Linked DNA regions of Homo sapiens. The protein of the gene in region 3 interacts with the protein of the main gene of each other region in a pairwise test. Each region holds a gene or a part of one and is shown on either strand. Other genes may lie near its edges. The genes, in order: PPT1, NF2, PLEKHG7 and RAB7A.

Region 1 (8,195 bases), on a different chromosome or scaffold from region 3:
AGCCTCAGACTGAGACAATCTCCTAACAGAAAATTAAACATTTGGAAGCCGTGCGAGGCCACCTTCCATCATGTGGGTGGCAGGGGAAGCTGGTCTGCATGGAGAGAAAGAAGCAGCGACACAGAGAGAGAAGCAACAATGGCACTGGAGAGAGAATACCCTGGCTCCTCATGGCTCCCAATTCTTGATTCTAGGCCCTATGAGGCTTTAGGCACCAACAGAGTATTACTTTCTTTTAAAATTTACTTTGGCTTGATATGGGTTTCTTCTTGCAACCAGAATTAATCCTCCCTAATACCAGGGGCAACCTGGGACAGTATCACAAAGACAAAATGATTTCTCTTTATTACTTTAAGCCTTCACCATCTGCTCTGCTAAAACAGTTCTCACACTCATTCATCTGCTTGCTTGCTTTCAAAAACATGTTGCCATTTTTTATGATCTCTTACCTCCTCTCTCCCTGTTCTCTCTGCCCTTGTGGGTTTATCACTTTTTATTCTTCTGCTACCACTTAATTAAAGTTTAAGGAGGAAGTGAAGATAAACACATCAATCTATAGCTTTTAATCAGTATTTTTTATTTTTATTTTTTGAGACAGAGTCTCACTCTGTCATCTAGGTTGGGGTGCAGTGGTGCGATCTCAGCTCACTGCAACCTCCGCCTTCTGGGTGCAAGCAATTCTCTAGCCTCAGCCTCCGGAGTGGCTGAGACTACAGGTGTGCACCACCACGCCTGCCTAATTTTTGTATTTTTAGTAGAGATGGGGTTTTGCCATGTTGGCCAGGCTGGTCTTGAACTCCAGGCCTCAAGTGATCTGCCTACCAAGGCCTCCCAAAGTGCTGGGATAACAGGCATGAGCCACTGCGCCCCGCCTTAATCAGTATTTAGGTGTCACTTGTCACCCCCCGACGGACTGCTCACTTAGCATCACTAACAGAATTCTGATCGCCAAGGGTTGTTTTGGTTCACACAAAGAAAGAAAAGTATAGGCGTTTTGGAGGCAACTGGGCAAGAGTGAGAATAAAGAGTAAAGGAAGAAGAATGAAGTTTAAATACCATGCAAATCCATGAGAACAGAGAATATGTAGAATATAAATAATTAAGTTGTAATTAGCCACAGCCAATCAAACCAGGCAAAGGGGAAAGCTTGGTGTAGCCTGAGGGTAAAAAAAAGGAGCTAGAGGTACAGAGTATCTTAGTTTTCTATAATAACCATCAGGTGGTACTGCTGACCCAAAACAGCTTTGTGGCTATTTGTGTAGCCAACGAGTGGGAAAAGAAAAGACAGCTATTAGCTGTAGGTGGTTACAACATGAGTCAGTCACAAGGCTGTATCTTGGAAAATGGCTTCAAGAATATACTGTAATAAAAAGTTGTTATTTGACAAGAATGAGACACTTGGAAAACCCACAGGATATTAGTTGATCCCAAACTCCAGCTATCATCAAGAGCACGTCAGACCTACCATCAAAACTTTTTTTTTTTTTTTTTTGAGACGGAGTCTCCCTCTGTTGCCTAGGCTAGAGTGCAGTGGCGCAATCTCGGCTCACTGCAAGCTCCGCCTCCCGGGTTTTTTAAGTGATTCTCCTGCCTCAGCCTCCTGACTAGCTGAGATTACAGGCGTGCGCCACCACGCCCAGTTAATTTTTGCATTTTTAATAGAGACGGGATTTCACCATGTTGGTTAGGCTGGTCTTGAACTCTTGACCTCATGATCCACCTGCCTCCACCTCCCAAAGTGCTGGGATTACAGGCGTGAGCCACCATGCCCGGCCCACAACTTCTAAGGATAAAGCCCAGGAATCCATTTTTAATGAATTTCCCTGTGGTTCTGATATACAATTAAGTTTGGAACCAACTGAACAAGCACATACTACAAAAGTAATTCTGCATCTTTTTTTTTTTAAAAATAGATTTTAACAGAGACAGGGGTCTCACTATGTTGTTCAGACTGGTTGTGAACTTCTGGCTTCAAGCAATCCTCCTGCCTTGGCCTCTCAAAGAGCTGGGATTACAAGTGTGAGCCATTATGCCAGGCTGGCCATGCTAAATACCCAAATACATTTGAGTAGTCAGGGACAGTGATATAGGGAGTAGCTAATGACATAAAGAATCTGTCCTCTAAATACCAACAATAATTCCTTGAGCTTAGTACTTTCTAAAGGCTTTCTGTTTGTTTTTTAAGGATGGAAATTTATTCTGTTATAATTACATTCTTCTTACATAGAAAAATGCCCTTGTTTTTCTTTCTTTGTTTTTTAGTTAATAGACTTTTTGGAGCAAGTTTAGGTTTACAATGAAATTGAGCAGATAGTACAAAAAGATCTCATTTGAAGGCCGGGTGTGGTGGCTCACGCCTGTAATCCCAGCACTTTGGGAGGCCAAGGTGGGTGGGTCACCTGAGCTCGGGAAGTTGGAGACCAGCCTAAACAACATGGAGAAACCCAGTCTCTTCTGAAAATACAAAATTAGCCAGGCGTAGTGGCGCATGCCTGTAATCCCAGCTACTCGGAGGCGGAGGCAGGAGACTCGCTTGAACCTGGGAGGCAGAGGTTGCAGTGAGACAAAATCACGCCACTGCCCTCCAGCCTGGGCAACAAGAGCGAAACTCCATCTCAAAAAAAAAGATCTCATTTGAATATCACAAGGAACTACTGCTGGAATCACTGTGAGCATGAAAGTCAGCATGATATTTTCACACGGTGACAGGTCTGTAATCTTTTCAGCTAACCATACATACCGTTCCTGAACAACTTTGGAGTACGCCCCAGCATTCAGTGTTTTTCGGATGAAGTCACAGATGTGAGAGCTCTCTCCTGGGCATCGAGGGAGTCCAAAAACACCTACAGTGGTAGATGACAAATATCCACTCCTTCAATAATGATGTATCGAATACCCACTATGCACAAGGCACTGTGAGAAACAAAATGAACAGGACCAAACTCTGATTTCATTCACTTATTCCTCATGAAAATAAAGCGCAGAGAACTAATACTATCACCAGCTTCCTCCTGGTGCTGCTACACTCTTTCCTGCCTAAGGATCTTTTTACCTGCTCATCCCTGGAGGATGTGTTGCATCACATGGCTGGACGCATTTTCAGCTCTCAGGTCTTGGTCCTACACAAGTCACATCTGACCACCTTATCTCAAATAGTACCCACCCCCATTTCCTTCCCCTCCCCCAGTTATACTTCATCCTTAGCATCCTCATCAATAACATTGTTTTGAGTAACACAAATAGTTCTAAGCAAAATATTGGCAATAATTAATTTAATCCTCACAACCACCCTGTGGAGTAGATTTCATTATTTGCCCTATATCACAGATAGAAAACTGTAAAAATGAGGTTAAATACCTTGTCCAAGGTTAGACAATAAGGTATAAGCCAGGATTCAGACACAGGCAGTTTGGCCCCAGAGCCCACTCCTTTAAGCACTACAACCACTAGTGTGTCCTTCGAACAGTATCCTGTTGTTTTTTTCCAAGAGATTGGGTCTTGCTATGTTGCCTAGACTAAAGTGCAATGGCTATTCACAGGCACAATTACAGCACACCACAGTGTCTTGAACTCCTGGCTTCAAATGATCCTCCAGCCTCAGCCTCCCAAGTAGCAGGGACTACAGGTGTACACCACCATGTGCCCAGCTATCCTCCATTTTATCGTGTATATATATATATGTGTGTGTGTATATATGTGTATATAAGTGCATATGTGTGTATATATATGTCTATATATGTCTATGTATGTGTGTATATAGGTGCATATGTGTATATATATGTCTATGTATGTATGTGCATATATGTGCACATGTGTGTGTGTATATATATATATTTCATGAATGCAAGAACCTTGTCTGTCTTGTTCCTGGCATATAATAGGTTTTCAATAAATATTTGTTAAATGAATGAATAATAAAGCTGTTTTTACCAACTTACGTTTGTATAATCCTTATACTTTTAAAAAGTATTTTCCTACCTATTATTTCACTTTATCCTCTGAAAAATTCCCATAGGACAGGCAGGGCCATATTTTGGTTTCTTCCATCTGTGAGTGGAACCTAAGATACCAAATTACTTGCCTAGGAGTAATAGTTAATTGGGTGAGTCCAGGTTTCCTGATTACACGGAGAATCATTCTGCTCCCACATTATACCAGCTAATAGCTATACCCATCAACAACAGAGATGAAATTCCATTCTAATGACACATCCTTCCCCAATAGTATGGAATTCCGTCAAAATAGAAAACCTGCTGTTTCTCAAAGAGTTTAAATTTATAGACACAAGAGCTTACACACTATTCTTTGCCTAAGCCTAAATTCAAGAGGATACCACCAAATCAGAGAACAGAAAAGGTCACTCAATTTTCCTAACTCCTCAACCACCACCTGCCACGTGGCTATAACCATCTTACTTCCATGCAATCGTGTCAATGAAATTGGAGAGAAGTAGATGCCAACCTAGTGATCCAGGCCTCTGGAATCCTAAGTCTCTTCCTATGTCTCCAGCAATGCTGGCTAGTTTGTTAAAAGCTAGAGAAACAGGATTTTGCAAGAATGGCTGATGTCTTGTGCAAATATAGTTCCTAGATTTTTTTTTAAATCAGGTGGTCATGTGGGTTAGAATACAGAAAAAAGAAAGCAAAGAGGCAAAGTTACCTTGATGTTGTCCCCCAACCGAGATCAGATTGATCATGGGAGGTGAAGGGCATCTCTGAGCCACTGCCCTCCTACGGAATAAAAGGGAGTTTTAGCTCCGACTGTCAGATGGAAATGTATCATCCACAATCAGCATCACAGATTAAGCTAGTCATCCTCTGTGACTCCCCAAACCCGCAGAGTTTCAGGATTTTCCTGATATGGGCAAATGCAAATATTTCTTTCAACTTTCATAGAAAATAAATTAAGCTCCAGCCAGGCATGGTGGCTCACACCTGTAATCTCAGCACTTTGGGAGGCTGAGGTGGGTGGACTACCTGAGGTCAGGAGTTCGAGACCAGCCTAGACAACATGGTAAAACCCCATCTCTACTAAAAATACAAAAAATTAGCTAGGTGTGGTGGTGAGCACCTATAGTCCCAGCTACTCGGGAGGCTGAGGCAGGAGAATCACTTGAACCTGGGACGTGGAGGTTGCAGTGAGCTGAGATCGCGCCACTGCACTCCAGCCTGGGCAACAAGAGAGAAATTCTGTCTCAAAAAAAAAAAAAAAAGAAAAGAAATTAAGTTCCATAAAGCTTCTTACACAGGAACATTTTAGGAAATTTCCCTTCCAAGATAGGTGACAATCTTGAATTGGAGGAGTGGATTTATCTGAATAAAAGAAACAAAAATCAATTCCATATAAGTGGTACAATATAACAAAAAGGAACGTACAGAAATTGGCCTCCCTGGGAGAATCCCATAGCATTGTAGCCTTGCTGCAATTTAGGATCCTTAGCAAGTGCCTGACACACTGTTGTTACTTGGGAATTGACATTCAAGAAGAAGCTGTTCTCCACGTCCTAAAAAAGAAGCCAGAGAGAAGTGAGAGGATGGGACTGAAAACAACCACTGACATCTTCTCTAAGAGGTAAACTCATTTAGGTTGGTATCCTCACATGAGCCACTCAAGGGTGAAAGTATCACTGTATGATCTGCTGCTGAAAACACAAGGCAAAGCATTTTAACAGTATATGCTATGAAATCAGTCAGCAACCCTTCAAAGGAACAGCTGTGAAGCGCCTTACCTCCATCAGGGTCTTCCCAATCTCTAAAGATAAGACGTAAATTCCAGGTATTTTCTTCTCCACCATTTTTTTAATAGCACCCATGCTTAAGGGATTGCAACAGCTGTCTCCTAGCCAACAAAACACAATGATGGAAACTCATGAGTCCAAATATTGTTTATTGTTTAAAAACTCTGAGGCCTCAAACAGCATTATCAAGGATGTGAAAACAATGTATAGAATGGAAGAAAATATTTGCAAAACAGTTATCTGATAAGGGCTTAATATCCAGAATATACAAGGAATCTATAACTCACTTACAACTCAACAAAAAGATAACCTAATTTAAAAATGGGAAAAGAAATTAAACAGATATTTTTCCAAAGAAGATATACAAATGGCTAACCACTGGCATGTGAAATGCAAACCAAAACCACGATGAGATACCATTTCACACAGACTAGGATGTCTTTAATAATAATTTTTTAATAGAAAATAACAAGTATTGTCAACGATGTAGAAAAATGGGACCCCTTGGACATTGCTGGTGGGAATGTAATAAGCAGCCACTGTGAAAAACAGTTTGGTGGTTTCTCAAAAAGTTAAACATACGATTACTAAATGACTCAGCAATTCAACTCCTAGTTATACACCCCAAAGAAATAAAAACACACGTCCATGCAGAAACTTGCATATAGATGTTAACAGCAGCAGTGTTTGTAATAGTCAAAAGGGAGAAACAATCCAGCAGTCCATCAATGAATGAATGAATAAAATGTGGTATATTCACACAATGGAATATTACTGAGTTATAAAAAAGGAACAAAGTGCTGACACATGTTACAACTTGAATGAACCTCAGAAACATTATACTAAGTGAAAGAAGCCAGACTCAAAAAGCCACATAATGCATGATTCCTTTCATAGGATAAATAAAGAACAGGCAAATCCACTGAGATACAGAAAACTAAGCTGGAGATTATCAAGAAGTAGTAGGAGGGGGCAATAGGGAGTGATTGCTTAATGGCTATGTGTGTTTTTCTGGGGTGTTGAAAAAGAAGTGTTAGTTGCACAACATTGCAAATACACTAAATGCCACTGAATCGTACCATTTTAAATGGTTAACTTTACATGAATTTTTACCTCAATTTTAAAAAACAGAAGAAAGAACATTTTTTGCTTAGCTCCTGTTTATCAAGTAATAACAAGCTTCAAAAGTCCATACAGGAGCTGGGTGTCATGGCTCACGTCTGTAATCCCAGCAGTTTGGGAGGCCGAGGTGGGTGGATCACAAGGTCAGGAGCTCGAGACCAGCCTGGGCAACATGGTGAAACCCCATCTCTACTAAATATACAAAAATTAGCCGGGTGTGGTGGCACATGTCTGTAGTCCCGCTACTTGGGGGGCTGAGGCAGGAGAATCGCTTGAAACTGAAAGGTGGAGGTTTCAGTGAGCCAAGATCATGCCACTGCACTCCAGCCTGGGCAACAGAACAAGGCTCCATCTCAAAAAAAAAAAAAAAAAAAAATCCATATAGGCCAAGCATGGGCTCATACCTATCATCCCAGCGCTTTGGTAAGACGAGGCAGGAGGATTGCTTGAGGCCAAGAGTTCGAGACCAGTTTGGGCAACATAACGAGACCCTGTCTCAAAAAAACCAAAAAGCCCATATAGGATAATTAAGACACCAAATTTACAAATGAAAAATAAGCAGAGGTACACATTCCCTTCCCCTATCACAGGGGATATTTGGGGTGAACAGATGCAAAGTTTTCTCTTCAGGGCCAGGACTAGGGTGAGGCAAATTAAGCATCTAGGACAGCGGTCTTCAACCTTTTTGGCACCAGGGACCAGGTTTGTGGAAGACAATTTTTCAAAACTGTTCCACCTCAGATCATCAGGCATTTGCTAGATTCTCATAAGGAGCACCCAATCCAGATCCCTCACATGCGCAGTTCACAACAGCATTTGAGCTCTTTGAGAATCTAATGCCACTGCTGATCTGACAGGAGGTAGAGCTCATGGTGGTAAGGCTGCAGGCTCACTCACCTCCTGCTGTGTGGCTAGTTCCTAACAGGTCACAGACCCAGGGAGTTTGGGACCCCCGCTCTAGGGCACAAAATTTAAGGAGGCACTCATTCTCAGGTTTATGTAAGTGTTGACCCTGAATTTGAGAGTGAGTGCCTCCTTAAATTTGCACTTCAGGAGCCTCTTCATCTTGTCCTAGCCCCAGACTTGTTTCTTCTATTTCAGGGAACTAGAACTAGGAACAGGAAGCAAACTGGCTACTGAGTAGAAGTGGACTGAGATCATTTCCCATTTTGAACTTACTTATTCCATTTTCAACCTGCGAGAAAGCTTAAGCACCAATTTTAGAACAAGAAAAGGCTACTGCCTAGAGAATTGTCTATTCCTTTTATTTCTCTGAAAACAACGTTCTCCACACTGAGCTGTAATTGTAGGTTACTTAACTGCCTCTGCCTCCCCT
Region 2 (7,912 bases), on a different chromosome or scaffold from region 3:
AAATTTGACCCCACAGTTCTATTATAAGAATTTATTCTACCAATATATCCACGTGTGTGTGTCAAGATTTGTGTTCAGGGATGTTCAGTGTCATTTTGTTCAAAATTGCAAAAGAAAACAGACTAAATACTCATCCATGAGGGACTGGTTAAATAAATTACAATCCATCCACACAACAAAACATGATTAAAAAGCTGATATGGATGATCTCCTTCAGGATTGACTGCTAAGAGGAAAGAGCAGTTACAGCAGTGTATAAGCTTTGCTCCAGTGTATATTTTAAAAACAACACATATAGGCTGGGCACAGTGGCTCATGCCTATAATCCCAGCACTTTGGGAAGCTGAGGCAGGCAGATCACTTGAGCTCGGGAGTTTGAGACCAGCTGTGGCAACATGGCAAAACCCTGTCCCTACCAAATAAAAAAAAAAATTAGCTGGGCGTGGTGGTGCATGTCTGTGGTCCCAGCTACTCAGGAGACTGGGGCGGGAAGATCGCTTGAGCCTATGAGGCTAAGGTTGCAGTGAGCCGAGATTCTGCCACCGCATTCCAGCCTGGGTGACAGAGTAAATAAAACTCTCTCTCTCTAAAAAAAAAAATAATAAATAAAATAAAAAATAAAAACATAACACATCTCAGGTGTTCAGCCCAGTTGACTGCTCAGACGACTCCAGTCCCAGCTACCATCTGACTGTGACCACCAGAGAGATCCCCAGCAAGGATCTCTGTCTGGCCCAGTCAACCCAACAAGCCACCAGAGGTACTAACAAAGCCACACAGCTGGCTTGGGTGGGTTGTTACACAGTAACGGAGAACCGGGATATACGGCAACAGCAAACTGCTTACATTTTCCCCACCTCAAACCCTGGGCAGCTTGTGCCTCTGGTGCCCTTTGTGCATCTGGGTCATGTATGTGCCTGTGCCATGTGCATGAATGTAAGTATGGGTGCGTGTGTGTCCGTGCTGTGTGTGTGGATGTGCTATGTGCATCAATGTATGTATGGGTACGTGTGTGTGTCTGTGCCATGTAGATGACTGTGCTGTGTGTGAGTCTGGGCCATGTGTGCATCTGTGCCCTCACCCTGAATACCCTATGTTCTCTTCTCCACCTGGCTACTTCCTGCTCCCCCTTCAAGCATCAGTGTAGACACCACACTGAGCCTCTCCTGCTCCTCCAGGGTGGGCTGTGTCCTCCTCCTCTAGGCACCTGTGCACCCTGAGAACACCTGTCAGGATAGAGACTTCCAACTGCATGGCACTATGTGGACACTGAACAAATATGAAAAAAAAAAAAATGCCAAACTGAATGCACAGAAGAAAGGAAGGAAAGAGGCTTCTATTCATTTTGTGACCCCATTTAATGGAAGTCTGACTCTCTGTCCCCAAACTGAGAGTGGCTGCTCGTTCTTGCACGGCAGTAATTCACTCTGAGGTGTACAGCCAATCCCTTCCCAGAACTATAATTATGATATATGGTATATACTGATAGTTGAAGATTACATTCAGCTCAGCATTAAGAGGCAAGAGAGCAAATTCTCTTGAGGATAATTTGGGACTATATTACTTAGAAAAAGAAAAACATTCCAGAGCTGGAAAAGGCCCTGTTGCCTGTTATCCAGGCAACCAAAGAGACAACTAACTAGTCCAAAGCCAAATGGCAGACCAGGATGTTCTACCCAGTCCCTAACTGCAGGCTCTCTGCACCTCTCATCCAGCCATGTGTTTGCCTGAATGGTCACCCTGAAGGCACCGCCAGATGAACTGAAGGGCCGGGAGGAAAGAGAACATCACCAGGACTAAGGCAGCCCCAGCTGGTGGCCCCCAGGCTCACCGGGTACGTGGGCTTGGTGGCAATCTCCAGGAGCTTCTGCTTGGCTCTTCGCTCCGCCTCGCGTGCTTCCTGCAGGTCCTGCTTCAGCTGATCTGCCTCTTTGGCCCTGCAAGGAAAGGATGAGATGTCAGCTTCACAGAAGAGGGCAGGTAGCAGGAAAAGACACCACCCCACCCCTGCAGAGGAGGGACCTGGGCTAACCCTGAGGATGGCACCCAAAGAGGTGAAAAAGGACAGTGAGACAGGGATATTTACATGAAATCAGAACTTCCAAGCAAGGACAACATTCCTGAGGACTTTTGTTTGAGTTGGTAAATCTAAACTGGAAGAGCAGGAAAACTGGTGGGGAATGAGAGAAACCAGACCTTCTGCAGCCAGGAGACAGAGGAGCTGGAGAGGGCACCAGCAGCTTTCTCTGCTTTATTTTTGGGTGAGAGTGAGCTGGGCAAAGGAAGAACCTGGAGGATCAAAGTTCTTATATTGGATCGCAAAGGGCAGAATGTGCAAGAACTGCGTCTTCACAGCCCCCGGATAAAACACCAGTGGGCCTTGTGCCCACTTTCTCCAGCAGAAAGATGAGCCCAGTCACTGAGGGCACCCGCACCCTGGTGCAGATCCTCATCCTATGGGGCTCAGGTGGTCACGGCATGTGAGGCCTGGTGCAGGGACCTGGCCCAACCTGCATCATGCACAGGGAGTGACCCCCGAATACAGTAAGGGGCCTGAAGCAGGGCAGGCAAAAAGGAACCATATTCCCAGAACGACATGCAAAGCGTGGTGAGGAAAACTGTAGTGAATGCACCTTGGTAGCTAAAAGCCAAATTCAAGTGCTCTAAATCAACAGAGCCAAAAGCTGTGGGGAATGTGTCAGTGTTTATCTGAAGGTTGCAGGCCTAGAATAGTCTTTCAAAAGTACAGACAACAGTTCCATCCTTCAACCTGGCCATGAGTGGGACATCCCAGTCACAGAGATCATCCTAGCCCTCCTCCCCCATGTGCCAAGAAAGGCTGGGGGATGCAGGCACTAGCTTCCCTTTAAAGGTAGGCAGCTGCTGTTCTCCTGCAGCCCCACTGAATGAAAGCAGAAAAGAACCACACTTTTTTTAAATGCACAAAGAGCCTCCTCACATCTCTTCAGCTGAAAGCGGTCTGTGGATATGCTCAGGGGTTTTCCTGCACACACGGCCATCAGAGGGACAGGGGCTTATCAAAGAGACACAAGTATGACCAGAGAGGCCCCCCTGGAGGGGGAACTGAGTTCCTGTGCCCAACCAGTAGCGCCAGCCCCAAAATGGATAAAGCACCAGTCACCATCAGCCAAGGAGGAGCCTCCCCACGGCCCAGAAGATGGGCAAGCAGCTTGAGGACAACTGCTGTAGAGCTCAGCCTCAGGGCAGGCTGGTCTGCGGCCCTTCGCCAGCCTCCTCGCCAGTCTGGTGCCCGGTGCCCCCTCACCTCCTCTCTGACTCCTCAGCCATCTTCAGTGCCAGCACCTCGGCTTCCAGCACCTTCTGCTCCATCAGGCGCTTCTCCTCCTCCGTGCGAATCGCTGTGGCCTTGATGCGCTGCATTTCCTGCTCAGCCTCTGCGGCCTTCTGGGCCAGAAGTTTTGCCTCCTCCTCGGTGATCTGGGCCTTTTCAGCCAACAGGTCAGCTGTCTCCTCAGACCGCATCTGGAGGGCACAGTGCTCTTAGCTGAAGTGGGATCATGTGCTGTTCTCCCGCCCAGATCTGCCTTGAACACTGAGATGGGACAAACCAGAGTCTCGGACTCCTGGGGCCCTGCTGCTGAGTGCCCTCCATGACCCTCTGACAAGAAATGACAAGCCACATTCCCCAACTTTTCAGAAGGGCCCTTCGGGCTGCACCCATGGGGAGTAACAAGAGCACCTTCTCTGAGTACCCACCTCAGCTCAGGCTTATGCTTCACGTGGAGAAAAACAACTTAAACTCTGTTCTTTCCCTTTAAATCAGTGGTTAGAACCAGAGGAGTTTTTTGTCCCCTGCAAGAGACATGTGGCAGGTGGGGCACGGTGGCTCACGCCTATAATCCCAGCCTTTTGGGAGGCTGAGGCGGGCAGATCACCTGAGGTCAGGAGTTCAAGACCAGCCTGGCTAACATGGTGAAAACCCATTTCTACTAAAAATACAAAAAAAAAAAAGCTGGATGTGTTGGCGCGCACCTGTAATCCCAGCTACTTGGGAGGCTGAGGCAGGAGAATCGCTTGAACCCAGGAGGCGGAGGTTGCAGTGAGCCAAGATCATGCCATTGCACTCCAGCTTGGGCAACAAGAGTGAAACTCCATCTCAAAAAAAAAAAATAAAAGTACAGCTGGGCACGGTGGCTAACACCTATAATCCCAGCACTTTGGGAGGCTGAGGCGGGCAGATCACGAGGTCAGGAGTTCGAAACCAGCCTGACCAACATGGGGAAACCCCATCTCTACTAAAAATACAAAAATTAGCTGGGCATGGTGATGCATGCCTGTAATCCCAGCTGCTCAGGAGGCTGAGGCAGGAGAATTGCTTGAACCTGGGAGGTGAAGATTGCAGTAAGCTGAGATCGTGCCACTGTACACTCCAGCCTAGGCAACAGAGCGAGACTCCGTCTCAAAAAAAAAAAAAAAAAAAAGAGACATGTGGCAATGTCTGAAGATGTTTTGGATTGTTACAAATGGAGGGTGAGGTGCTGCTACTGGGATCTAGTTCCTACAGCAAAGGATGGTCAGCCCCAAATGTCAGTAGTGCCCAGGCTGAGAAGCCCTGCTATAAAGGCAACCTCGTGGTGAAAGTGGAGTTTGGCTGCACATAAGCTCAACCTAAATCTGCTTCTGCCAACACAGGTGAAAAGAAAAGGCACTGATTTTTTCAAAGCTGAAATTAAGTATTTCAAAGCAAACGCTGCTAACTCATGGTTTTCAGGAGACCAAGCTCCAGAAAAGCCAAGGAAGTCCCCAAGTAGCCTCCTGGAACCCCAGCCCCTCAGAAATCACCAGTGCTTCGTTGGCCATTGTTGCTTCTTCTTTCATCTGCAGCAGCCTCCTCTCCAACTCATCCCTCGTGCGTTCAGCCTCCTCCCTCATCTGCTTCTCTCGAGCGAGGCGCTGCCGCTCCATCTGCGAGGGGTGAAGAAAAACAGTCATTGAATCACAGGGCTCGAGACCTAGGGTGCCACAAGGGCCCAAAGATGCCCCATCTCCAGTCTCCCCTTTTGGGACCTTTTTCCTTCCCTTTCCTTTAGGTAGCCAGGGTCATTCTTATTGCCCCCCACCCCGTCCTTCTAAACCAGTTGCAGAGTTGAAAGCTGTGCCACTTGAAAAACAGTCTAGTGGTGAATGAACAAATGAACAAACAATAAAAACCTGTTGAGTCTTGACCCGGATAGAAAAAGGCATTCTTTTTTTTTGGTGGAGGGGACAGAGTTTTGCTCTGTCACCCAGGCTGGAGTGCAGTGGCGCGATCTCGGCTCACTGCAACCTCCGCCTCCCAGGTTCAATCAATTCTCCTGCCTCAGCCTCCCGAGTAGCTGGGACTATAGGCACCCGCCACCATGCCTGGCTAATTTTTGTATTTTTAGTAGAGATCAGGTTTCACCATATTGGCCAGGCTGGTCTTGAACTCCTGACCTTATGATCCACCCACCTTGGCCTCCCAAAGTGCTGGGATTACAGGCATGAGCCGCCGCGCCTGGCAGAAGGAGGCATTCTTATACACGGTGCACTGAAATGGCTACCTTGCCAATGTTGCTTTTTGTTGGGAAACCCCAGGTGGCTCTGCCCCATGGCCGATGGGATGCAATGCAGGACCTCCTCCCTCAGATAGAGCCCCAGAAATAAGCAGCTTTCTCATCTGGGCAGGCAAGCCATCTCACCATTTCTAATCCACATGGACCCCTCTCACATCTCTGATTTCATCAACAATAGCTCCACTCTTGCCTCTGACCCACAGAGAAGATGGAATCATTCTACGTGATGCATCAATAGTTCACACATTGTATTTCACAGGGGGGAGCTGCAACAGCCACAGCACAGACTTGCACAGCCTCATGTGGAGACAACTCCTGAGCCAGGCCTAGGACAGGAGGGAGCCAGGCGGGAAACACAGCCCCGTGTCCTTAAGGCAACAGCACAAAGCCACCACTACCTCCCTTGCCTTCTGGATCACTGCATTAATTGGGCCACATGCTGAGCTTAATAAGGGGAACAAGCACAAGACAGTGCCATTCCTCTGTGATCCCAGGGTACTAACTGAGTTCAAAAAGCAGAACCCAGAAGTGACCACTGCACTATTTTCTGCCTTAAATAATTAAAGCACATTTAATTACTTCTTGCTTCAATCTTATCCCACACTCTGGTCATACAAGGTTTCTAAGACTGCTGCTTTTTCTAAATCCTAAGCCAAATACACACACACACACACACACACACACACACACACAAGCTCAAAAAGATAATGCAAAGACAAGCAATAAAACAGTGAAAGTTCTTCTCCAATTTTCTCCTTGTAAGTCAATGAAAAGCTTGGCCAATTTGTTCTCTAATTTCCATCATATTACAATTTCCATAAGGTGGCTTACTACATATCTACAATTCTTTTAAAAAAAAAGAAACTAAGAAAGAAAGAAAGAAAAAGCCCAGTCAGGCCAGGCAGGCATAGCAGCTCATGCCTGTAACCCTAGCACTTTGGGGGGCTGAAGTAGGAGGAATGTTTGAGCCCAGGAGTTTGAGATCAGCCTGGGTAACATAGCAAGACCTGATCTCTACGAAACAATTAAAATTAACTAGGTGTGGTAGCATGCACTTGTAGTCCCAGCTACTTGAGGGGCTGAGGCAGAAGGATTGCTCAAGCCCAGGAGCTTGAGGTTACAGTGAGCTATGATGGCACCACTGCACTCCAGCCTCAGTGACAGAACAAGACCCTTTTATTAAAAAAAAAAGCCAGGTAATCTCCTTCAGTTCCTGGCCCTGTACTTTCCCTGAGACCTCTACCCCAATATAAAAGACCTCCTATTCACAAAAGAAGTTTACTGCATACAAAGACTGTAAGGTGTAATATACGTCCCTTCATCTGAGATGGAGAAGGTATATCATTAGTTTCACCTGATGGATGAGAAAACTAAGGTCTGGAAGGTAAGTCATTGACTTACTCACATTCTAAATTTCAGATCTGGCTCCAAGGTCAGTGTCTGTCCACCTGATCTGTGGTTGCCCAGATGCCAGGTTTGTGGCTCTGCTGTGCTGTAAGCAGTGCCGATCTGCAGTGTTCCTGCTATTCTCTGCCAGGGCCCACAGACTGCATATTCCCTGACACTTTCAGATTTCTTACTTCTAAGCTTTGCTCTGCTAAGAAAAAGGTCAAAGAAAGCTCTCCTCCTCCTTCTTATTTATTTACTTATTTATTTATTTATTTTGGTATTTTGTTTCTGCTTCTGTTTTAAAACAGGGTCTTGCTTGGTCACCCAGGCTGGAATGTAGTGGTGCAATCATAGCTCACTGCAGCCTCAAATTCCTAGGCAAGTGATCCTCCTGCCTTGGCCTCCCAAAGTGCTGGAGTTATAGGGATGAGCCACTGCCACGAGCTCTTCATGAAACTGCCACTATGACCCCATGCTGGCTCAGTAGGATTTCTTTGTCCAACAAATCCATCCCATCACCCTGAAAGCATCCCAAAGAACACATTTGTGGCCCACTACCTCAGAAAGCAAAGAGATAGAGAGCTGAAAGCACACTGGGCATTTCATTCTAAATCCTAGGGCTGGGACCAGCCTCTCCAATGTATCCAAATCAGAAAGGTGCACACAGACTAATTATTACACTTCTGAGCTTGCAAGTCCTGCGGGCAGCCAACTGCAGCTGCTGCTACTCTATCTAGTAGTTTATCCAAAAACACAATTGATATTCTCAGCAGTAAGGCCCAAATTAGTTGTGTGGATTTCCATGAGCAGAGAAGGTTTATGAGTAGAAAACAATGATGCAGATCATCCAGTCTGCTGATAGATGCTCCTGGCACCTCCTGGGGCAGGTGACATGCCATAAGGCCTGACCTGCAGTGGGGAATTGCAGCCAGAGTCAAATTAGCATT
Region 3 (5,162 bases):
TGCATAAACTTACTAAATTTATGTAAAATTGTATAAAATAGAATTAGAAGTCACTAAGTTCTTTCTGTGTAGAAGTAATAAATTTATTGTAACACAATGCAGTTGTGTATATGACATTCTGTAATTCCTTGAACTGGATCATATATTCATAAGTTCTGTAGATACTTATGCATGAACATTTTCTCATTTAGTTTTTGGGTTCATTATTTGTATTGTGTTTACTACTTGTGATCATGTAGTTGTGCCTTACTTTGTGAGAAAGGTTAGCTCAGTAAATACTGCAATTTCTAAACTCAGTGATTGGAAGGTTATTAATTATAAATGTAACTGATAAAGTACGTGACAGCATTTAAATCTGTATAAAGAACAATGGAAGGATCCTTATTGAATTGTTGCTTTTTTTTAATATGTTTAAATATTATATTAAAAACATTTCTTTCTAAACTAGTTGTATTCTGTGACTATAAATTGTTTTGTCTAACAAAAGAGAGAACACTGTATTAACCATTTTGCATTAATTTATTTACAGAATATTAGGACTTTGCACTTGGATATAGACAGTGGTGTTTTAATGTTGTTCAATTTCGAATAGTAATTAAATTCCTGATCTCAAGAGAAATTATTAATGCCATTTTGCCTTAGACATTCCATTTAATATTGTAGAGAATTAACAAAACTAAAAACAAATATAAAAAATATGTAATTAACCCCTTATTTCATTGTGTGTCTGCATTTAATACCCAGATGACCATTTAAAGATACTTAAAACATTATTTATTTATTTATTTATTTATTTTTCTCCCTCCCCTCCCCAAAGATACTTTTTGGAAGGCCCAATGTGCCATTGTTTTTTGCTATTTTTTCTTCCTGGGAGCCACGGTTCTAGAATGGTTTTTGTTCTGACCCCCGTGATCCCTTCATTCGAATGTGCTTCATTCTAAACCCTCCAAAGAGTTTAATGTGCATATCCTCAAACATCTAATATATTGTATATTAGACATGTTACTTTGTGAGCTTTATAGAATTCCAGTTTATGTACAGCATATTCTTGAGCTGTTTTATATATTTTGTTAATTTAGTCAGTCTGTCTCTCCCTTTAATGAGATTCAGAGGGAGAAAACTACCTTTATACATGTAAGTCTGTGGTTGCTGGATTCATGGGACTAAAGGAATTTGAGAGGCCACCTCATCCTAGTCCACTGCTCACCTCCGAGGTTAGTTTATATCTAAACATTTGCAAGATGATTGTTAATGTAAAAATTTTTTTTAACCAGAAATTTCTTTATAAAATCTTCTCTTGCATAATCTATATTGTATTCTCCTGGACATAACTGCTTTCAGTCCCATCCAGATGCCATCTCTAGGAATTCACTTGAAGCTTGAAGTCTATTCTCCCCTTTTTCTCCCCTCCACCTCATTTATTCTTAGCTATTAACAATAGTTACTGTCCTCCAGATTTTCCTTTTTTTCTTCTATTAAATTTCTGACATTATTATAAAGAGGTTATTAGTCTCCATTCTAATAGTGCTTGCCTTGTACAAAAGCCTTTCTGCTGCACTTGTCTTTACTGCTTTGTTTGCATAGTGAAATTTCACCTTCCTCAAGGAATTACTGGGCACATGACTTGCCCAAACATTATCCTCTCTACCCCATTCTTCAGCTTAACAAAATCAGCTAAGGCTTCAGTTGTCTTGCAGCCAAATTTGATAAATTTACTACTTTCACTTTGCAAATTGCAAAAGGTACGATTCTGAAATGGAAGTTTGTGGACTTCCCTTTGATGCAATAATCTGACCCTAAGAACTAGTTCCTTGAATGTAGTTAATAGTATATATCCTGCCATGATAATAATTATTCAAACTGCCTTTCATGATAAAAATTCTGAAGAAATTTGAAGTCCTGCCAAATAAAATTAAGTGACTGTACTGTGCTAACACACACACACACACACACACACACCAATCAAAACCAGAAAGTATTTTTATGGCAAACACCATCATTCTTCAAAAAATAAAGTTAAGAGACAGATACCTTACTATGTCTATGAAAATCTGTACACTTCACAACAGGCCAAGAAAAGCCATGCAAAAGTGTTAACTGGTGAAAGCCAGATTTTTTTTTTCTTCCTATCTTAAAGTAATGGAATTTAGTCTTTGGGATTTTCTACTTCCACGTTAGAGTACTATATACCTGAGATGAGTTTGAGAATAGGAATTTTAAAACTGCTACTTAAATGTAGTCCCTATTTATTGCTTTGTATATTAAAAGAACAATCAAGCTTTGTATCTAAAGATTTATCATTATGTTTGAGGTAGGACTATAAAGCGGTTAAGACTGATTGACAGGCCATGAAGGAAAATTGGTTTCATTATTTTATGGATACAGAGTAAGATGCTGGAGTTCATATTGGACATAAGCAGTGGACATTGTTTTCCTTCTGATACTCCATTTATCTGATCATTCACCCTTTACAAATTAGCACCTTTCTTCACTCACACCTCTTACAAACCTGACGGAAGCATTAGAAGGTAATCTGGATGTCAGTATATATTTGTCAAGAAATTCCTCAGAGTTCAAATTTGTTGCAGTCATTATTCCTCTATACTGAGGATTTTCCTAGCTCAAAATTTCAAATTCTGAAACTTCTTTAAAATGCAAATTTCCTTCTAGCTTATCACTAGCTAAGTGTTACAAAACTTTGAATGAAATTATACCTTAAACCATAATCTTCTAAAAAGACATGCCACTTGTTTTAGGTCCCTAAATTTCAGAGGATTCTGCGGGCAATGTGAATAAAGATATTTTCTTGGTTTCCTGACTCTTGGTAAAGCAAGAAATTGCAGTTGTTATTTGTGCCATCCATGTTTTCTGTTGAAAAAAAGAAAAAAATACATAAATAGAGATTAGAATGTTAAGCTGACAATTTCTCACATATTTGGGCTAATATTTTCTGCTATATTTATTGACCAGCTCTTTAAAACTGAAGACTAATGAAACATTTGCATATGTTTCCCATTTTCTTTCTTACATCTAATATAAATACTTCTAATCTTACAGGAAAATGCAGATGGGCTAAATGAGTATGGTATGCATGTTGGATAACAGTTATGAGTAATCAAGAAACAATAGTCAATGATAACTCATTAGAAAAATGAGCACTGAGAATATATGTAGTTTGAAAGTGGCATTGCTGGAATTTCTATTCTCTGTGGAAACAAGTTCTTAACCTGTAGTATAACTTGAAAGAGACTGAGGGCAGTGACCCAGGAAATTGAATATTGCATTTGTTGTCTGGCCACATTGTAGATATGATGAAAGCCTACCAGGGGAAATACAAAAATAGAAACTTCTAAGACAGAGAAACCAGAGTCAGGCAGCTGCTCTTTCAACTCCATAGCTGTAAAAACAATGGCAGTTTTTCAAAGGTTGACAAGCTGACTTGACAGGGATCATTATTGCGCCAGGCCCTCCTTAAGCTAATATCCTATTATATGCACTTTGGAAACTGATTGGAGCATCTTAAAGGTTCATCATGCAATCCAAATCAATTCTTCCCCCATTTCCTACAGAAACTGTAGAACGCAGGCAGTTCTTGAGCTTCTGCAGGAGAACTCTGCAAGCGTGAGGAAATTGTTCCTCAACCCCGCAAGTGTGAGGAAATTGTTCCTCAACCCCACAAGTGTGAGGAAATTGTCAATACTGAGGCTTTTGAGCATTATATGGACTAGATGTACCCCTCCCCTCCTCCCAAATCTGCCCTTCCCAAGTGGGTGAGAGAAAAACACAAAACTTTCCATTCACTGTTACTTAAGACACTTGGGGGGAGCTTATGTAAACTCTGAAGAATCAAAGACCTACAAAATTAAAATACATACTTTGATGTTTTCCGTTTGGGCTTGTAATAAGAATGCTGCTATACACTGTCGATATCTGTTTTCGTGTTGTATAAGAAAAGCATTTCTCAGCCCAAAGACTAGAAAAAGATATTACAAAGACAAAAAGCCAAATCATTTCATATGAAATCCAAACAATTTCTTAGTACAAGAATCTGGGGTTTGTTTTCTATTTGGCTTGTTTCTGTTTTAACGAGGGTGGGAGGTTTATCTAGCTTATAATTTTTTTTTAAATTTTATTTCAATGCCAAGACCCCACCACTATGTCCAAATAAAGCCTACTCTACTATAAAAACCCTTTCTTCCTTAGCTAATGACTTCTGATACTTGATGAAATGCAACTAAGGCTTAGGTAATGGGGCCCCTGCTCGTAGAACAAGCTAAACATATGCGGTAGATTTTTTTGTGTATGAAAATATAGATAATAAAAATATACAAAACAATATAATATTTTCTTCTTTGTTCTTCACCACTCCTTTAAAAAATTTTATTTTTGTGTTTAAAGGGAAGTCACATCCAACCAAGGTTTATAAACAAATTAAGATGTGGCAAAAATACAAAACCACCTGAATACTTCAGGCCAAGAAAAGCCAAAAACCACTCAAAATCCAGCATCCACCAAACTGGGTGAAATGTAAAACAAAACAAAAAGAGACATTGGCATGGTTTCTGTGTTTGCAAAAGAAAGCCTGTTCTGTCATTTCCTAGCTGGCCTCAAAGAAAAGATAGTGGGAGAGCAGACTTCTTTTTCTAATATAGCAGGAGCGCTTAAAATGAAAGTCTCTTCTTTGAATTATTAATACAACACAGTCCTGAAGCTTACACATTCTTTTTTCTCTCTTTTTTTTTTTTTCTTGAGACGAAGTCTCTCACTGTCGCCCGGGCTGGAGTGCAGTGGCGGGATCTCGGCTCACTGTACCTCTGCCTCCCAGGTTCACATGGTTCTCCTGCTTCAGCCTCCTGAGTAGCTGGGATTACAGGCGCCCGCCACCACGCCTGGCTAATTTTTTTGTGTTTTTAGTCGAGACGGGGGTTTCACTTTGTTGGCCAGGCTGGTCTCGAACTCCTAACCTCATGATCCACCCAACCTCGGCGTCCCAAAGTGCTAGGATTATAGGCATGAGCCACCGCGCCCGCCCTATACATTCTTTCTATAGTCAGTGTTTAGAAACAAACAAACAAAAACAGGCCAGGGCTGTCTCCTGCCCACATCAAGTACTTCAGGAAAGAGAAAAAGTGAGCAAGTGACATATTCTTGCTGATCATTAA
Region 4 (8,195 bases), on a different chromosome or scaffold from region 3:
GTTCTTTTTCCCTTTGCCAAGACAGCCATCAATACTCCTATCACGGCTGCTCCTTTGGTTGGAGTAAGAATGATGCAGAGCCTCTAGAAAACCCATGCTCTTTTTGACCACTTTGAGGTTATTGGTTACTACAGCATAACCTAGCTTATTCTGTCTGATAGTGCTTGAAGATTCACCACCTGAAAATCTATGTTTCAAAAGAAACAGACTAGTCTGAAATCCCTCTTTTAAAAACATTTAAATAAAACTGAATGATAAAATGTACAAAGGCTGTTCTTCCGCAGAAGATGCTATTATTCTTCTGCCATTATTAAAGAATTATCTGTCAACTTGGAATACTGGATGCTAGTCCCAGTCCCACTAACACACAGTGGCTCCAAGATACTGAGCATGACCTTTTAGTCCATTTCCTCATCTAAAAAAAAAAAAAGAGACAAATCAAATGCTGCTTAAATTGTGAAGTTTAAACAAGGTAACAACCTCTATGAAATGTAAAGACATTGTTTATGTACTTTGCTCTGAGTACTGCATTCCTGCTGGGAGGGAAAAGGCAAAGGCAACTTACACAAAGAAGAGTGTCTTGGAAGGCAATTCTTGTGAAGAGGACTTCACTCCTGGATCAATAGATTCTTCAATACGATGCACCACTGTCATCAAGCTTTCTGAACCCAGGTACTAAGCCAAAAGTTTAGTCTCTAACGAGAGACCAGGATGATTCCTGCCTTTTTTTCTTTTTGGTAAGGCAAACTGGAAAGCAGATAGCTAGTAAAACAGTTACATAAGAACTATCTTCGATAGTTTGATATCAACCCTAGATTATCTCAGGCATTTAACCAGTAAAACAGACTGCCCATAAATTGCTAAGAGGAGCCCACAATGGGCTGGCTAAAGAGGAAAACCAAACTAACTGCTCTCTTCCTCTATCCCACCTCCCCTAACCAGCTCCCATGTTTAACTTTTCATTAAAGCCACTTCTGAAGAAGCAACTCTCTGAAAGTTTAAGCACAACTCTTGTAGTATTTCAATCCTAGCCCACTAAGCTCTTAATGTATGGTTTCTTTAGACAAATTACAACATCAAAGCCATTCCTCACCCATAACTGGGGTACTATCTGACTTAATTGTGAGGTTCAAGTGACAGGATTATGCTGTGTCTATTCCAGCATTACAGAGTGAAGTGCCACTTGGTTGAACTTAAATCCTCTAACAAGGGATTGCAGTGCCTGCCCTCCCTACCAGGATCTGGTTTCCATACATACAGTCATTCCCAAATTAGAGCTACTGCAATCCCTACATCCATTCATTGACTTATGCCATTCTTTCCAACTATAATGGTTTCCCAACTCTCACCTGCCTACCAATTTATTTAAAAATCCACTCAACATGCCCCTCACCACCCCAGGCATTGAACAACTCTAAACTAAGTAACTCTCATCTGCCCTGTATTTACAATTATTCCTGAATAATTCTCCACAGGGGCCAACAGTGTTTTCTTATAGTAGAGAAGAAAAACCTGTTAAATGAACACAGAACACATAGTTCATCATTCAGGAAACCCACATATATTAACCACTGACCCAGAAGCATAACTTACATGCTATAAACGGTAACTTACTCTGAAAAGCTAGAACTGGAAAAAATTTAAACAAAAGCTTAGTAATATTTCAAGATCCATTCTAGAATAATGATTCATCCTTGTCCTCAAGTGGCTTAGAGTTGGAAGACAGGCAAAGTCATGTAATATTATTTCAATCAAACTAAGGTCTATAATGGATACACAAAGCTGAAGATCACGCAGCCAAAAGGCTGGTGGTGAAAGGCCCACTAATATCTGAAGGGTCAGTCAGAATATGCAAAACAGACCTATTTCTAGCATATGTACGATAGAATGTGATATTCTAAGGGCTCAAGTGTCTGACCAAAAAAGAGAGTTGGAATGAAAGCACCATCTACTATGGTTAGATCTACACCCCACAGATTACTCTTTCACAGGCCAATTCCACCACCAGGAATGGAGTCCAGACTATAAAAGTAAGCTATGGGCAACTATGGAAGACTAACTGCTCATTCACTGGACTGAAGCGGTGTTTTCCTTTCTTTCTTTTCTTTCCTTTTTTTTTTTTTTTTTTTTTTTGAGGTAGGGTCTCATTCTGTCGCCCAGGCTAGAGTGCAGTGGTGAAATCTCAGCTCCACCTCCCAGGTTCAAGCGATTCTCATGCAACATCCACCTCCCAGGTTCGAGCGATTGTCATGTCTCAGCCTCCCAAGTAGCTGGAATTACAAGTGCCCACCACCACGCCTGGCTAATTTTTTGTATTTTCAGTAGACACAGGGTTTCGCTATGTTGGCCAGGCTGGTCTTGAACTCCTGGCCTCAAGTGATCCGCCCACCTCGGTCTCCCAAAGTGCTGGGATTACAGGCATGAGCCACTGTGCCTGGCCGAACCTCTGCTTTTAACCCCAATGGATTTAAGTAGCATTTACAAGAGGTAGTCTCAAACTGACACGTTTTACTCCAGGATAACCTTCCCCAGTCCCTTGAGGTTCCCCTACACTGGTGAGTAAACAAGCTGTACCATGGTGCCATAAAGAAATGGCTTTCTACCAGAGGGAACTAAAATTAGAGAGAAAAAGTTACAAGTGCTAGCAAGGATGTGGAATATTTGGACTTCTTATATACTGCTGGTGGAAGAATACGCTGGTACAACTTTTGAAAACTGGCCATATCTACTAGAGCAGAATAGATACTCTTATGAAGTGAACTGTGTCCACCTAAAATTTTTAAGTTGAAATTCTAATCCCCAATATATCAGAATGTGACTTATTTGCAGACAGGGCCTTTAAAGAAGTAACTGAGGTTAAGTGAGGTCATAAGGGTGGGCCTCAATCCAATACGACTGGTGTCCTAAAAGAAAAGGAGAATAGGACACAGCCAATACAGAGGAAAGATCCTGTGAAGATACAGGGAAGAGAAGACAGTCATTTACAAACCAAGGAGAGGCTTCAGAAGAAACTAATCCTCCCGACAGCTTGACCTCAGATTTCTAACCTTCAGAATTGAGAAAATAAATTTCTGTTTAAGCCACTCTATCTGTGATACTTGTTACGGCAGCCCTAGCAAATGAATACAGACACATACCCTAAAACTCAGTCTTTTTACTTAAATACATTATGATATATCACATAATACTACTGAGCAATGGAAACTCCAGTTACAACTGTACACAACAACACAAAGTCTCACAAACAACACTGAGTCAAAGAAACCAGATACGCAAGAATACACAGTGTATGATTCCATTTACACAAAATCCAAATCAGGCAAAATTAGTCTACAGTTCTAGAAATCAGAAGACTCACTACGCAAGCATCAGGGCATCGATGATAATGACTTAAAGGAGACTAAGAGGGCCTCTGGGTTTATAAAAATTCTCTAAGCCGTCCACTTATTTGTGCACTTTTCTGTATATATGTATGTTTACTAAAATACAGAAATGATAAATTACTTGGAAATACAGGCAACAATGTACTTATCCAGTGTTACCATGGCAAATAAACCTTACTCTGGAGCTGGATGCATCAGGTTCCTCACTCGTTACCAACAAACATTTGAAAAATACAGCTATTCCTATGATCCCCAGCTTCTCATCATTCAGTGTCTACTAGGAGAAGTATCACAGGTCACATCACCCAAGAGTATCTGGTCTCCTCCACAGTTAAATTCTCACATCATTTTTGGGGAGAGTTCAATTTCTTTTTTCTTGAGACAGGGTCTTGCTCTGCCACCCAGGCTGGAGTGCAGTGCCACGAACACAAACCACTGCAGCCTTAAACTCCTGGAATCAAGTGATCCTCCCGTCTCAGCCTCCCACCATCTGGAACCACAAGTGTACCACCACACCCACCTAATTTTTTCTTTTCTTTGTAGAGATGGAGTCTTACTTTGTTGCTGAAGGTGGTCTTGAACTCCTGGGCTCAAGCAATCCTCCTGCCTTACCCTCCCAAAGTGCTGGGATTACTCCTCCCAAAGTACTGACCACCATGCCTGGCCAAGAGTTCAATCTCATTAAAGGAAGGTATGAAAGTATACATTCAAAGGAAGAAAATAACCAGTTAACACTTTGGTCTTCCTCGGGGTAGTGAATCACAAATTTTCCTTCTTTATATTTCTGAATTTTCCTAGCTTTTTTTTTTTAACTGAATAGTTTAATAATCAGCAAAAAAGACGTATCATTTTAAATAAAAGGTAGTGGGCCAGGCGTGGTGGTTCACGCCTGTAATCCCAGCACCTTGGGAGGCCAAGGCGGGCGGATCACAGGGTCAAGGGATTGAGACCATCCTGGCCAACATGGTGAAACCCCATCTATACTAAAAATACAAAAATTAGCTGGGCATGGTGACGTGCACCTGTAGCCCCAGCTACTCAGGAGGCTGAGGCAGGAGAATTGCTTGAACCCGAGAGGCGGAGGTTGCAGTGAGCCGAGATCATGCTACTGCACTCCAGCCTGGCGACAGAGCTTGACTCTGTCTCAGAGAGAGAAAAAAAAAAAAGGTAGTGGAAGAAAGAGACACTTTTTTTTTTTTTTGAGATGGAATCTTGCTCTGTCGCCAGGCTGGAGTGCAATGGCACGATCCCGGCTCACTGCAAGCTCCGCCTCCCCAGTTCAAGCGATTCTACTACCTCAGCCTCCTGAATAGCTGGGACTACAGTGCATGCCACTATGCCCAGCTAATTTTTATATTTTTAGTATAGACGGGGTTTCACCACGTTGGCCAGGATGGTCTCTATCTCTTGACCCTGTGATCCACCCTCCTCGGCCTCCCAAAGTGCTGGGATTACAGGTGTGAGCCATCGCCCCCGGCCGAAAGATACACTTTTACAAGGGGTGAAATGTCGTGGTCTTTAGGGCACTAGCATATAATGGAAAGGCAGGATGGTACATCAGAAAGAGCACTGAACTGAGTTAGCAGACCTAGACTGACATTCCAGCTGAGCCACCTGAGCATACAGCCTCAGCTATTTCAGGCAGATACACACAACAGTTGTGAGCACCAAATGAAATCACATGTAAACTACAAATACCACAGAAACATTAAAAAGCATTTAAAGGCAAATGTGTAGGAAGGTTTCTACAAAATGTTATCGCTTTTTTAACAACCATTAACATGGTGCAGGTCAGAGGATTTAAGAGTGGGTTTTAAATGACCCGCAGTTATCTCAGGGATCCTCATATCTGTAAGTGAACAGAAGAACTGTTGGTAGGCTGACTGAATACCACATATAAGGGACACTATTTTTCATAAAGTCTATGCTTGGTTATTTAAGGTTAATTCATAGCAGCTTTGTAATTATGCACTCTCAAATAACTCAAACTACAAAGCTTATTCAATGGAAACCAACTTTTTATTACACTTACATACCAATATTGGAAATCAATGATGTAACTATTTACTTCACTAAGTAACTTTTAAAGGACTCCTGATCTGAGATGGTTAATGCCCAGCAGTATGAAGCAAAGCTGGAAAGGAAAGGCTGAGGGAGAAGAGAGAACTTCCTTTCCTTTATCTGGCAGCAGCCACACAAGAAGGACCAACTAAGAGACAAGCAAGGCTGGAGAATTCCTAAACTGCCCTTGTCCCAGGCTCCCCTTAAATAGGCTCCCTTGGATTTGCTTGGTCCCAACTGTAGACAGTCCCAGGACACCAGAAGTGGACAACAGAATCAGGCAAACTTAAATTTCTCAGCAGTGATGCCATCACCAAAACAGAGACTCCAGGCCCCATGAGTTAAGTACTGCATCTTCAAGCAAATGAACAAGGCCAATGCTGTAGGTCAGCATTGGAACCAACTCCCAAGCTTTCTTCCTCCCACAAGGAGATATTTTGCAAGTAGCTATTCTTAAATATGTTTTTGTAATCACAGCCTGGGATACTAAAATTGAAACTGGTAACAGACACTGCTAAAAAACTTGTTTTGATTTCACTCGCCACATCACTTTTACCTCTGATTCACAAATCGCAGTGACCACCACCATTAAGAAATGTTTTAAAAATAAGTTTTAGGCTGGGCATGGTGGCTCACGCCTGTAATTCCAGCACTTTGGGAGGCCGAGGCGGGTGGATCACGAGGTCAGGAGATCAAGACCAATCTGGCTAACACGGTGAAACCCCGTCTCTACTAAAAATACAAAAATTAGCCGGGCGTGGTGGTGGGTGCCTGTAGTCCCAGCTACTCGGGAGGCTGAGGCAGGAGAATGGCATGAATCTGGAAGGTGGAGCTTGCAGTGAGCTGAGATGGCACCACTGCACTCCAGCCTGGGCTACAAAGCAAGATTCCGTCTAAAAAAAAAAAAAAAGTTTTAAAACACAAACTATTTTTCTGTCTTTAATGCCATATGGAGTGTGGGGAAAAACAGAATAGAAGATTTAAGAGCAAATAACTGAAAAGATCAGCATATTGCAAAAATGTTTCTGCAGCAAACTGCAGACAGAGAAGCATAGAGAACTATTAGATAATATTAACAGATAAGCATGTGGTAACACAAAGGAATGGATGCCTGAGAATACAATGGTAGCCTTCCTTACATGAGAGGTAAGAATCATCAACAGCAAGCCAATAGCCAAAAAATAAGGGGGGAGGCGGGGAGTTCATTTCTCGAGTTTCAGTCGCCTTCAGAAGAAGACATTTAATGCCAAGGGGAACCTCTGTTTAGCCTTATTCAGGAGGACTTCTAATCCTTACCTCCCCAGGAAAAGCCTGCCTACAGCTCCAAGTCCAACATCTGGTCAAATCTATCTCAGCTGTATTTGTTGAATTAAATGAATGGGGAGATAAATACTTTATCATAGGAAAAACTAAAATATTTGTGTCAAATGCCAGAGAGGAATGTGCATAAGACAACTGTCATATTTGCGTGGTCTGTGTTTGCTACATCTTTGTTTACAAAGTCTAATGCCAAAGTAAGAGCAAAAACGTTATTAGTGAAGATCCCTTTGAAGACTTTTTTTTTTTTTTTTTTTGAGAAGAAGTCTCGCTCTGTCGCCCAGGCTGGAGTGCAGCGGCATGATCTCTGCTCACTGCAAGCCCTGCCTCCTGGGTTCACGCCATTCTCCTGCCTCAGCCTCACGAGTAGCTGGGACTACAGGCGCCCGCCACCACGCCCGGCTAATTTTTTGTATTTTTAGTAGAGATGGGGTTTCACTGTGTTAGCCAGGATGGTCTCGATCTCCTGACCTCATGATCCACCTGCCTCGGCCTCCCAAAGTGCTGGGATTACAGGCGTGAGCCACCGTGCCCAGCTGAAGACATATTAAAAGCTAATCAAATAACCAAAATTTTTTGGCTTCACTTGGCAGTGGGGTCAGAAAACTGATTCAAAGCCACACTTTACTATAAAGAGTTGTTCTCTGATTACAGGGTTGGTGAGCTTAGACACAGTTGGCACTAAAAAAAAATTTTAAAAAAAATTGCCCCAAGTGGTTGCTAACTACCTAGAAGGATATACTAATAAAACTATTTTTAGACTATCTTCTACATTCCACCCTCTGTTTACTTATGCAGTTCTACCACAAATGTAAAATCCAAATCTTCCCTTAAAGAAGGGAATCTAGAAAGTTGTGGGAGATAGGGTAACACAGCTTTTCTATGTAGAATGGTACTGAAACTATGGCCAGTACACTATCAGTGCTACATTAAACTTTCTTGCCAGCTGAAGAAAAAAATCCAGCATGCCAAATGTACCTTTGCTCAAAGACATGGCAGTGCAAGGTAATTACAGTAGTGACATGGACTACCTCTTGAGTGAACAAAAAAATGCTACCAGAGTCGGCCGGGCGCAGTGGCTCATGCCTGTAATCCCAGCACTTTTCGGAGGCCGAGACAGGCGGATCACCTGAGGTAGGCAGTTCGAGACCAGCCTGACCAACATGGAGAAAACCTGTCTCTACTAAAAATACAAGATTAGCTGGGCATGGTGGCGCATGCCTGTAATTCCAGCCACTCGGGAGGCTGAGGCAGGAGAATGGCTTGAACCCGGGAGGCAGAGGTTGCAGTGAGCCGACATCGCGCTATTGCACTCTAGCCTGGGCAACAAGAGGGAAACTCCGTCTCAAAATATAAATAAAATAAAATAAATGCCACTAGAGCAAAAGGAGAAACAAGTTGAGTGTTGAAGGTTACTCTTTAAAAGATGTGATT

Evidence for each region.
Region 1: the proteins of PLEKHG7 (region 3) and PPT1 interact in binary tests that used the Homo sapiens proteins (3 or more experiments, as listed by UniProt).
Region 2: the proteins of PLEKHG7 (region 3) and NF2 interact in binary tests that used the Homo sapiens proteins (3 or more experiments, as listed by UniProt).
Region 4: the proteins of PLEKHG7 (region 3) and RAB7A interact in binary tests that used the Homo sapiens proteins (3 or more experiments, as listed by UniProt).

Annotation. Positions count from the first base shown.
Region 1 is NC_000001.11:40,086,670-40,094,864, forward strand, and holds part of PPT1 (palmitoyl-protein thioesterase 1 isoform 1 precursor), read right to left. Parts: intron 5,839-8,195; coding exon 5,729-5,838; intron 5,504-5,728; coding exon 5,376-5,503; intron 4,731-5,375; coding exon 4,660-4,730; intron 2,844-4,659; coding exon 2,741-2,843; intron 1-2,740. UniProt on the Homo sapiens protein: Has thioesterase activity against fatty acid thioesters with 14 -18 carbons, including palmitoyl-CoA, S-palmitoyl-N-acetylcysteamine, and palmitoylated proteins. In contrast to PPT2, PPT1 can hydrolyze palmitoylated proteins and palmitoylcysteine.
Region 2 is NC_000022.11:29,668,861-29,676,772, reverse strand, and holds part of NF2 (merlin), read right to left. Parts: intron 4,948-7,912; coding exon 4,825-4,947; intron 3,505-4,824; coding exon 3,287-3,504; intron 1,938-3,286; coding exon 1,832-1,937; intron 1-1,831. UniProt on the Homo sapiens protein: Probable regulator of the Hippo/SWH (Sav/Wts/Hpo) signaling pathway, a signaling pathway that plays a pivotal role in tumor suppression by restricting proliferation and promoting apoptosis.
Region 3 is NC_000012.12:92,767,794-92,772,955, reverse strand, and holds the end of PLEKHG7 (pleckstrin homology domain-containing family G member 7), read right to left. Parts: intron 3,974-5,162; coding exon 3,876-3,973; intron 2,869-3,875; coding exon 2,761-2,868; 3' UTR 501-2,760; downstream 1-500.
Region 4 is NC_000003.12:128,728,393-128,736,587, reverse strand, and holds part of RAB7A (ras-related protein Rab-7a), read right to left. Parts: intron 1-8,195.